Regions from separate parts of the Homo sapiens genome. Here region 2 is linked to region 1. The links come from fine-mapping of genetic effects on plasma protein levels. Region 1 holds a variant in brackets. A gene starts in the other region. All regions are shown on their forward strands. Region 1 has its middle 18 kb from the start of LINC01271. Region 2 holds the start of CD1C (CD1c molecule).

What was found. A credible set is the group of variants that fine-mapping cannot tell apart. PIP is the posterior inclusion probability: the model's chance that the variant is causal. Protein levels are from antibody-based Olink assays in UK Biobank. Linkage for the fine-mapping came from a reference panel and not from the study's own genotypes, which makes the PIPs less certain.
Region 2: CD1C starts here. The variant in region 1 is the best candidate, but not a certain one, in a credible set for the plasma level of the CD1C protein (UK Biobank, PIP 0.81).

What each region holds. Positions count from the first base shown.
Region 1 is chr20:50,336,887-50,342,265 of GRCh38, forward strand. No RefSeq gene overlaps it. Among named protein-coding and RNA genes, the nearest start is that of LINC01271, 18 kb to the left of the region's middle. RefSeq lists an enhancer at 2,228-2,427. The variant A/G (reference allele first, on the strand shown) is at 2,172.
Region 2 is chr1:158,287,598-158,292,922 of GRCh38, forward strand. It overlaps CD1C (CD1c molecule), which reads left to right and starts at 2,326. Exons shown (of 6, transcript NM_001765.3): 1 at 2,326-2,528; 2 at 3,537-3,803; 3 at 4,487-4,768; 4 at 4,999-5,277. The coding sequence starts at 2,468. It also overlaps a transcript of CD1B not described here.

The DNA of each region.
Region 1 (5,379 bases):
TAAAAACTGCCTTATGACTTGGCAGTTGCAATCCTGGACATAAAAATGAAAACTTATGTTTGTGCAAAAACTTATGCTCAAATCTTCATAGCAGCTCTCTTCATAATAGGCAAAAACTGGTAAACCACCCGGAAGCCTGTCTATGGTTTTTTTTAACTAAAAAAAGCTGTGTTATATCCATACTATGGACTGCTACTTGCAATACAAAGGAATAAAATATTGATAACACACAATTTGAATAAATCTTCAGAGAATTATGCTGAGTGAAAAAAACCAGTCCTCAAAGGTTACATAAACTATATGATTCCATTTATGTAACATTCTTGAAACCACACAATTATAGAAATGGAGAACAGATTAGTGGTTGCCATGGCTCGGGGGCAGGGTTGGGGGTGGGAGATGGGTTTGGTTATACAAGGGCAATGAGGGATCCTCGTGGTGATAGAAATGTCTGTATCTTGACTATATCACTGTCAATATCTTTATTGTGACTGTTAACATTGGGGGAAACTGGAAAGGGTATATGGACTCTCTCTGTTTATTTCTTACAACTGCATGTAAATCTATAATAATCTCAAAAGAATACATTTTAAAAAGAATATATTATACAATTTTCTATACCCAGACACTACTAAATATAATTATATCTTTGGTAACACAGACACACTGTTCTCAGATAACGGAAGTAGTGCGGTGATTATGTGTGTGACTTGACAATGGGATGGGCTGGGTTCAAATCTCAGCTACCAGTCCCTTCACCTCCTTGGGCCTCAGTTTCCACACCTGCAGGTGCTGAGCAATGAGAGGAACTGTCTCGTGGGGTTGCTGGGGGGACACGATGACGTGATTCATGAGACATGCAGAGCACAATGCTCACTTGCAGTGGCTGCCCAGTAAATGAAATTGCCACTTTTCCGGGCTGTAGAAAAGGCTACAGGTAGAGGCAGGCAGAGGATTGGACCCGAGAGCATCCTCTGAGAGCTCTAGATTGGGATCATGTCTCACCAGCCAGGGGGTTTGTTTTGACTTCTTTCTTGCAGGGAAGTGTCTGCTGAGTGGTCCATTCCACTCCCCTGAGTTTGGCCTGGTCGCTTCTTGTCTGCCCTCTGGACCCCGGTGGGTGCAAACTTTCATGGGTGTCTCTCCACCTGGAGCCTGTGGTTGGGACTGCTCAGGTGGGGACACAGCCTGGGGGGTGATCCTCTGTAAGGCAAAATGGAGCAGGAGTGGAACCCATGCCTACTGCATACCTATTGTGTGCCTTGTGACTTACGTGCTGCAGCTCACGGAATTCTCCCAACAACTTTGAGCAGTAGGTGCTATAATCACTCCTGCGTGATCCAGAGAAAACCGAGACTTGGTGAGGGGAATGGACTTGTCCAAGGTTGTGCAACTAGTAGGTGGCAGAGCTGAGATCTGAGCCCTGGTCTGTCTGATTTAAATCCAGAATCATTTTCACTGTTGATAATAACCTCACCACTTATTAAGTATCTACTAGAGTAATCAATATGCTAGCTCTTTCCATTGAGGTATGATCACCTTTCCATTTTAGAGAAGAGGAAATAGGGGTTAGGCAAGGTGCATTGCCAAGATGGACAACAGCTCTCAAAAAACAGCCAACCTTGCAGCCAACGGGCAGCTTTCTTGTGTGCCCCCAACCCCACCTGTAGCTCCAGCCCAGCTCAGCCAAGATCACTCAAGCTTTGGGACTTTTAAATGCTGAGTCAGCAAACAGCCCCTACCTTGAGATACTCTGCCTAGGCAGACTGTGGTTGTTTGCACTTCAGCTTCAGGCCTCCAGGGTCAGCTGAGATAGCAAGACCTTCCCCTGGGGGCTGGATGGGGTCATTGGGAGCCACTGAGAGACCCTTTCCCCACTTGGCCTGGCAGACAGAGTGGCAGTTGGAAGAGGCTCGAGGTGGCTGTGGTGGTAACAACTTCCTTTTGAGTAATAACATTTACTGAAAAGCAATTCTGCTTTTAGCACCAGAAGTTCACCATCCTTGCAAGCAGGCGCCTAAGAATACCTTCATTCAACCACAGTTCAGAGATTCACAGACTTCCTTTTGCACTCCCTCCAGGAGAGTTTCACATTTGGTGTTGAGGGAAAACCAAATACCACAATTATTGGAGGGGGTGGGAGGGGTGTTGAGAGGGAGGTGATGCGAAGG[A/G]GGCCAGGTGGCATCAACCACAGCCCCCAAGGCCTCACAGGCAGCCTCTGGGCAGCGGCTCAGCCTCTCGCCCTCAGTTACTGGAAAGACAGCGGACGAGCTCATAATGAAACCGACAGGCTGACAATTTATCTTCCTTTTACAAGAAAAAGAAAGTGATTGTCCTTCAAACAAGCATGACTTTGGAAGCCAGGGACTTACCCTGGCCACTCTGCAAATTAGAGACAGAGCCAGGCTGCTCCAGAGGCCCCGAGCCCCTGCCTGTCACCCCCAATTAGCGCTGGAGTTCTTTAGGCTCGTTTTTTCTATTGCCCAAAATCCAGTCTACTGGGGCATAATGGGGACTTATGGAAAGAAAAAAATCCAATCTGCACTTGGGAGGGGATAGCCTTAAATGTTAGGCACTCACCGCAGGCAGCTGGGGGTGGCTGAGGGCAAGGGAGAAGGCATGGGTGGGGAAGGAGGGGATGTGCCAGGCAGAGCCAGGAGGCTCCAAAAAGCAGCTCTAAAAAGCTCTCCCCCTCCCAGCAATCCAGCCTCCTGACTCACGCCAGACACAGAGGCAGCTGATGGGATGGGAAGAGGCTGGCTTTGGGAGCCACAGGGATGTGGGGGCAAACTCCAGCTCTGCCACTTGCTGGCTGTGTGACCTTGGGTGGGTAACTTCACCTCTCTGAGACTCAGTTTCCTCACCTTTAAGATGAGGATGAGTATAGGAGGTCAGGACATGACCTTCCTGTGCTCAAAACCCTCCCACGGCTCCCACCTCACTTGGCAGAAAGTCAAAGATCTCTGTGGCCTACCAGGCCCTACAAGATCTTTCCCATGCTTCCCTTATAACCTCATCTCTCTCTCTCTGTCTCTTTTTTTTTTTTTTTTTTTAAGACAGGGTCTCACTTTGTCACCCAGGCTGGAGTGCAGTGGTGCCAACACATCTCACTACAGCCTCAACCTCCTGGGCTCAAGTCATCCTCTCACCTCAGCCTCCCAGATAGGTAGGACTACAGACACATGCCTCCACGGCCAGCTAATTTTTGTATTTTTTGTAGTAGAGATGGGGTTTTGCCATGTTGCCCAGGCTGGTCTCGAACTCCTGAGCTCAAGTGATCTGCCCACCTTGGCCTTCCAAAGTGCTTGGGATTACAGGTGTGAGTCACCGCGCCTGGCCCATCTCCTCTTACTCACTCTCTCTGGTTCCCTCTACCCCTGCCACACTGGGCTCCTCTTTGTTCCTCCAACATGCTAAGCACACGCCTACCTCGGGGCTTTTGCACACACTGTTTCCGCTGCCTTCAGCATCCTTCCTCCAGATAGCCACAGGGCTTCTTCCCTCTCCTGATCTGGGTGTCTGCTTAAATGACCCCGGGGGTCCTGCTCTGACCCCCGGCCCTTCCAAATTGCTCCCCTGGCCTTACCTCTTCACCCTGCGTGAATGTTTTCCCATAACACTGACCACTACTTGACACAATAATTTAGGGGGTTCATAACTCCCCATTGGCCAGACTGTAAGCTCCCAGCAGGCAGAGGCCAGTTCTCCACTGTCCTCCATTAAATCTCAGAGCCTGGCACATAGGGGGCACTCATCCAGCATTGAATGAACAGATGCAGGGTTTTGTGGTGAGAAGGGAAGAAGGACGTGTGTGGCGGGTTCAGCACCAGCCCAGGGTGCGTGCTCACTGTCACTTCTTCTCTCCTCTGCCCAGCACCAGCCCCATGTCATGTGCTTGTTGAATTCCTACAATGGAAGGATGCATTTTACAGATGCAGGAATGAGACCACAGAGCCCAAGCGACTGTCTCAGCCCGCAGCGGGGCAAGGCTTTGAATTCTGGTCTGCGGGTCTCTTGGCCTCCAGGACAATGGTGACAGTGTCCAGTCTGACTTGGGGTCTGGGTGAGAGAAATGGCTGGTGGGGCCATCAGACTCTTGAGAAGAGGCCCTGGCTTTGAGGATCTCCAGCCGACATCTGGGCTTAGGACTGGGGTTCACGCCCCGTCCTCCTGTCCCACAGTCCCACATTCTGCCCCAAAGCAGAATGCAAGCCCCATCAAGGAGGCTCAGGGTTTCCAGAGAGGGGCTTCCTCAACTTTCTGTTGCTGGAAAGTTCTGTCCCAGAAAGGGCAGACGCTTGAGGAGCTCCTGGATCCGGCAGAAGGCTCTGAGACTAGGAGACCCCTGGTGTCCTCGCTCCCCGGCACCCCGCCAGTTCTCGAATACAAGGGACTTTCCAGAGAAGTCAGCCTCCTGGCTGCCTCCAAGCCTGCCCAGGCCTGCAGGCCCAGGTCTCCATGAAGCTCAGTCCTGCCTCGGTTTCCCTGTTTTTAATTTCTTGGAGAGGCCAAGGAGTTTGGAGGTGAACAGCCTCATACGAGCACTAATTTCCCCTAGGCCTGGGGCATAGGAATTTTGGAGCCATAAACAGGCTTCTCACAGCCCCCATGATGAGTCCTCCCCACACTCCATCCACCCTGGACTCTGGGCTGAGCTGGGCAAGGAGCTGGTCTGGGGTGGGCTGGGTGTTGCCTGTGGGTGCGGCTCAGAGCTGGGGGCGCTACCTCTGCCCTTCTGTCCCCCATCAGAGCTGCCCCAGCTGTATGAGAACCCCTCCCACAATGGCTACAACAGAGGGCACGCAAGTGAGACGCCAGGAAGAACTGCTTCAGCTTCGTTATCCTCAAAGGTGTTCGTACCCATCAAGCCTCCTAGAGCAGACCTCCATGACAGCTGCCCATGGGACAGGTCCACTCTGGAGATATGTTTAGTTTGGTCCTTAAAGTATTTTTTTTTAATGTGAATCAATTGCCAACATCTGACATGCCAGGAGATTTCACATAAAGTCCTTTTCTCTGGCTTCTCTTGAAAAATGGGAAGATGTGGCCATACTGGGCCCACATTCCTACTGGACACAGGAGGCCTGGGAGTGGGGTTGCGGGAGGCCCTTTCTTAGTGGCACATAGTAGGTACTTTCCTGTTCACCCAGTCCCTGCATGCCCCACTTTCCTCATATCATTTCCTTGCCAGGGTCTTGAAGTATGAGTAGGAGTGCGCCAGAAAAGGGCAGTGGAAAAGCGTTCCAGCAAAGGGGAACAGCGTGAGTCGGTGAGATGCATCTGTTCAAGATTCACTCGACAAATATGTATTGATACTTACTGTATACACAGGGACATACAGCAAGAAACCAAACAAATCAAAATCTCTGCCCTCTGGTT
Region 2 (5,325 bases), not on the chromosome of region 1:
TAAAGCAAATTATCTAGTGGCACTATCAGAAGTCAAGATTGACCATTAGATCCATCTATCTCATGTTATTTTCAACTTGTTTGCTTCTGAATTCAAGAGGGCAAAAAGGATGATACTTACTGGGTTTTATAATATTATCCAATATAGCTAGGTTATGTTGCAGTTATAAATAAACTTTAGAACTTGGAGGCTTAACACAATGAAGTTTATTTCTCATGCAGTTAAACTGCATGTAGATCAGGCTGCTCTTCTCCATCTCATAGTCTTGCCATTTAGAAATTTGACTGCCAAGTTGGTACCACAGGGTAAGATGATCAGATGTGATATTTTCAGTGGTCAGGACTGGAGCTGGCTAATGCTTCCAACACCACACATTCCATTGCCCAGAACTCAGTCCATGACCTTAACCCAACTATTAGGAAATAGGACAGTTGCATCTTTCCTGTAGGAACATGGAAAAAAATGTGAATAAACACATAATGTGGTATCTACTATTGTTTTCTAAAACCACAAACCAAGTATTTGCCATTAACAGCACAAGATGAGCAAAGATAACACCTAGTGCTTATGAATGATTTGGGTAGGATTTGAACTGGGTATTGCTCTTAAAGATATTATAGTTCATAGAAATTGCCACATATCTGTGGCCATGATAGGAAGAGCTCATTGAGAATGACTTCTGGCCTCACTATTAACGTTGACAAACCTAAGAAATAGTGTATATATCAAAGTATCATGTTGTACACAGTAAATACATAGAATAAATATAAATTTAAAACAGAAACAATGTTACAAATGGGATTTTCCTTTTTAAGGCACGGTCTTGCTCTGTTACCCAGGCTGGAGTACAGTGACATGAACATGGCTCACTACAGCCCTGACTTTCAGGGCTCAAAAGATCTTCCTGCCTCTGCCTCCCATTTAGCTGGGACTACAGGCATGTGCCACCACATTTGGCCAACTTTTTAATTTTTTTATCGAGATGAGGTCTAACTTTGTTGCCCAGGCTGGTCTCAAACTCCTGGGCTCAAGTGATCTTCCCACCTTGGTCTCCCAAAGTGCTGGGATTACAGGCATGAGTCATTGTGCCTAGCACAAATTCATGCCCAGATTTTAAGTGACTGCTCCAATGCATTCAGTGAATAATTAATATGATTTAAGAAACACTATAATAATAAATGTATTTCCTGGATCTCAAAAAAACTGTGTTCATGTATTTACACATATTAACCAGCCAGGGTCACTGATAAGTCACTGAATACTTCATATAAACTACTTAAATCAAACATTGACAAATGCTGCCCTTTTTATACAATGTGTTTTGGTCAGATCACAAAACAACTTAAATTTGGATTTTTGTGGTCTCCCCATGTATGAGTCCTCTTGAAAAGCTGCATGTTCTGACTATCACAATCGTATACCATTCCACACTGTACAGAATTTTCAGTATTTAGTTGAGATGCATGCTGTTCTTCCAGGACTTCAAATTATGAACTTCCCAGGGGGTTAGTCAGTCAAAATGCTGCTCTAGAGAATATAGTTCTAAGTAGATTTGTATCTGGGATTCTATACATTGAAATTAAAATCACAATGCATTTTAATTTTTTGTTTAAACATCTGCAGTTTAAAACTCTTTGATAGAAGAGATTACATTGTTAACCTCTGTGTGTTTATATGCCTAGTAAGACACTGGTATCAACCATGTACTATGTAATTTTTTAGTGAATGACTATACAGATTAAATGCAGTAGAAGGGCTTCTTTATATTTGTTATGGTCCTATGCATTCTGAATGGCTGCAATTTAATCTCTAAGGATAATGTAGAGTGGACTGTAGTTTATATAATTGTGCAGGGAAATCTTGGAAGATGTAAAAAGCAACGTCTCCAATTTATAAAAGAATCAGTGAGAATGAGGAAATAAGAAAGATGGGTGAAAAGAGGTGAAATTGGAAAGAGAAAACTTTGAGGACATTCAAAAGGGGGAAAGAAAGAATGGAGTGATGAGAAGAGGGGACACTATGGAGAGTGGAGGCAAAGTTAAGTGGAGAAACTGGAAGAACTGTGATCTATTAAAACAAGCAGGAACTGAAAAAATGACATGGTTTCTCCTTTTTATCTTACAAATGACATGCAAAATCCAGAGGGACAAAATGACCTTTCTTTCAATGCCATACACCACTTTGTCTAAGGCAGTTGAGGAAGGGAAGTAGATATAATGGAGCTTAGTGGCAGAGCAGCTGGAATCCTGAGAGAAGAGAATAACTTTAGTTCAGAGCAGGTGGGGAAATGAGAGATTGAGTAGGAGGACCAAGGTTGAGGGAAGCAGATCTTCTTAGTTGCTGTCAGCGGCTGATGGGGAAGATTGTTGGTAGAAGGAAGTCAGAATATAGGTACAGAGGGATAAGTTTGCTAAGAACAGAGATCAGCAAACAGCTTTTCTGAGAGAAAGAAACATCTGCAAATGACATGCTGTTTCTGCAGTTTCTGCTGCTAGCTCTTCTTCTCCCAGGTGGTGACAATGCAGACGGTAAGAACATCGCTGTCAGCTGCAAGGTTACATGTATCTGGGTAGAGTGTGCTGGGCTTTCCCGAGATGGATCAATAGAGATGCCAGAATGCTTGCCATCTGAGCATACCTGTCTCCAGGTCCAGTTTACTCTTTTGGAGGATGGTGGCAGAGCATGGGCTCTGTGTAAGGAAAATGTTATAGCTAAAGTAGTCATTAATGTTTCTCTGTGGTAACTGGTTCAATTTCCATTTCCTCTCCATTTTCCGTTAAAACAATCAGGGCCCAGGAAAATGATGTGGTTTCTCCTTTTTATGTTACAAATGACACGCAAGGTCCAGAGGGATGAAGCAACCTTTCAATGCCACGCACCACTTTGTCTAAGGCAGTTGAGGAAGGGAAGTAGATAAGATGGAGCTTAGTGGGAGAGCAGCTAAAATCCTAAGGGAAGAGAGTAACTTTAGTTCAGAGCAGATGGGGAAATGAGAGATTGAGTAGGAGGCCTAAGGTTAAGGGAAGCAGATTGTCTTAGTTGCTGTCAGTGGCTGATGGGGAAGATTGTCTGTTGGTAGAAGGAAGTCAGAATATAGATGTAGAGGGATAAGTTTGCTAAGAACAGAGATCAGCAAATGGCTTTTCTGAGAGAAGGAAACAACTGCAAATGACATGCTGTTTCTGTAGTTTCCGCTGCTAGTTCTTCTCCTCCCCGGTGGTGACAATGCAGATAGTATGAACATCTCTGTCAGCTGCAAGGTTACATGTATCTGGGTTGAGCATGATGGGCTTTCCCAAGATGGATCAATGAAGAAGCCAGAATGGTTGCCATTTGAGCATACCTCTCTCCAGGTCCAGTTTACTCTTTTAGAGGATGGTGGCAGAGCATGGGGCTCTGTGTAAGGAAAATGGTATAGCTAAAGTAGTCATTAATGTTTCTCTGTGGTAACTGGTTCACCTTCCATTTTCTCTCCATTTTCCTTGCCTCTCTTTTTTTTTTTTTCCTTACACTACTTGCCCTTCTTCCACCAAAAGCATCCCAGGAACACGTCTCCTTCCATGTCATCCAGATCTTCTCATTTGTCAACCAATCCTGGGCACGAGGTCAGGGCTCAGGATGGCTGGACGAGTTGCAGACTCATGGCTGGGACAGTGAATCAGGCACAATAATTTTCCTGCATAACTGGTCCAAGGGCAACTTCAGCAATGAAGAGTTGTCAGACCTAGAGTTGTTATTTCGTTTCTACCTCTTTGGATTAACTCGGGAGATTCAAGACCATGCAAGTCAAGATTACTCGAAATGTAAGTTCAATCATCTAAATTATGGGAGTTCTTTAGAATGTTCTATTTCAGGGAAATATTCTCTACTAATTTTTGGGCCATTTCCCATTATCCCATCCCACCATAAAATTCTGCATAGATGAACCTTTTAAGGGATATTCCTGATGTTGACTCCCTCAAATTTCCTAGGCTCTTGCTATTTTTGGAATTTTTTTTCTTGTGCTTTGTTATCTTCCACCTGTGGTCTCCCTCTGTATCCTACAATCCAGAGATACACAGCTGTCCCACTCTGTGCTTGACTCCCTTAAAATAAAATCTATTCCCCCATTCAATTTCTTCAAAGATCTATGTCCACAGTTCAATGACCATTATGACCAATTTCATGCGTCATGGAATGCTATCCTCCTACCTCCCTCACAAAGGCTCCCCCTTCACCCTCTATCCTATATTATGTGGCTCACCTATCATTTTTCCACATCTTCCTTGGCCACTTTTTCTTGTTAATTCAAGGCATTTATCTCTTATTGTCCCCTTCCCTATCCCCAGCAATTTTTCTCTCTTGTTTCTGATCAAATATGTCTTTGGCTCACTCTCACATCCATGTAAAACTTTCTTGCTTCACTTCCTGATACAGCCCTAGGTTTTTATACTGTTGTTTTCACTTTTTTGTTTGAACTCTTTTTCTCATTCCTCCCTTCCTCCAGATCCCTTTGAAGTACAGGTGAAAGCGGGCTGTGAGCTGCATTCTGGAAAGAGCCCAGAAGGCTTCTTTCAGGTAGCTTTCAACGGATTAGATTTACTGAGTTTCCAGAATACAACATGGGTGCCATCTCCAGGCTGTGGAAGTTTGGCCCAAAGTGTCTGTCATCTACTCAATCATCAGTATGAAGGCGTCACAGAAACAGTGTATAATCTCATAAGAAGCACTTGCCCCCGATTTCTCTTGGGTCTCCTGGATGCAGGGAAGATGTATGTACACAGGCAAGGTCAGTAGTTTCAGCCCCTTCCTCTAAGATTTTTCTATTCAAGTACTGCCCCTTCTGTTCCCACCCTTCAAACTCAGGACAAGAAAGAGGACAAGAAGCAGGGGGGTTGCTGGGTAATAGTTTCTTAGAGGCAGGAAAAAGATAACTGTGCATATTCATGTGGATGTGTGTATGTGGATGTAAGTTGTGTGTAAGTTTCTTCATCAGAACACTTTTTCTGCTCTCTGCAGTGAGGCCAGAAGCCTGGCTGTCCAGTCGCCCCAGCCTTGGGTCTGGCCAGCTGTTGCTGGTTTGTCATGCCTCCGGCTTCTACCCAAAGCCTGTTTGGGTGACATGGATGCGGAATGAACAGGAGCAACTGGGCACTAAACATGGTGATATTCTTCCTAATGCTGATGGGACATGGTATCTTCAGGTGATCCTGGAGGTGGCATCTGAGGAGCCTGCTGGCCTGTCTTGTCGAGTGAGACACAGCAGTCTAGGAGGCCAGGACATCATCCTCTACTGGGGTAAGACTGGAGGTTGGAAGTGTAGGTAGGTGGTTCTTGAGCCTAGAG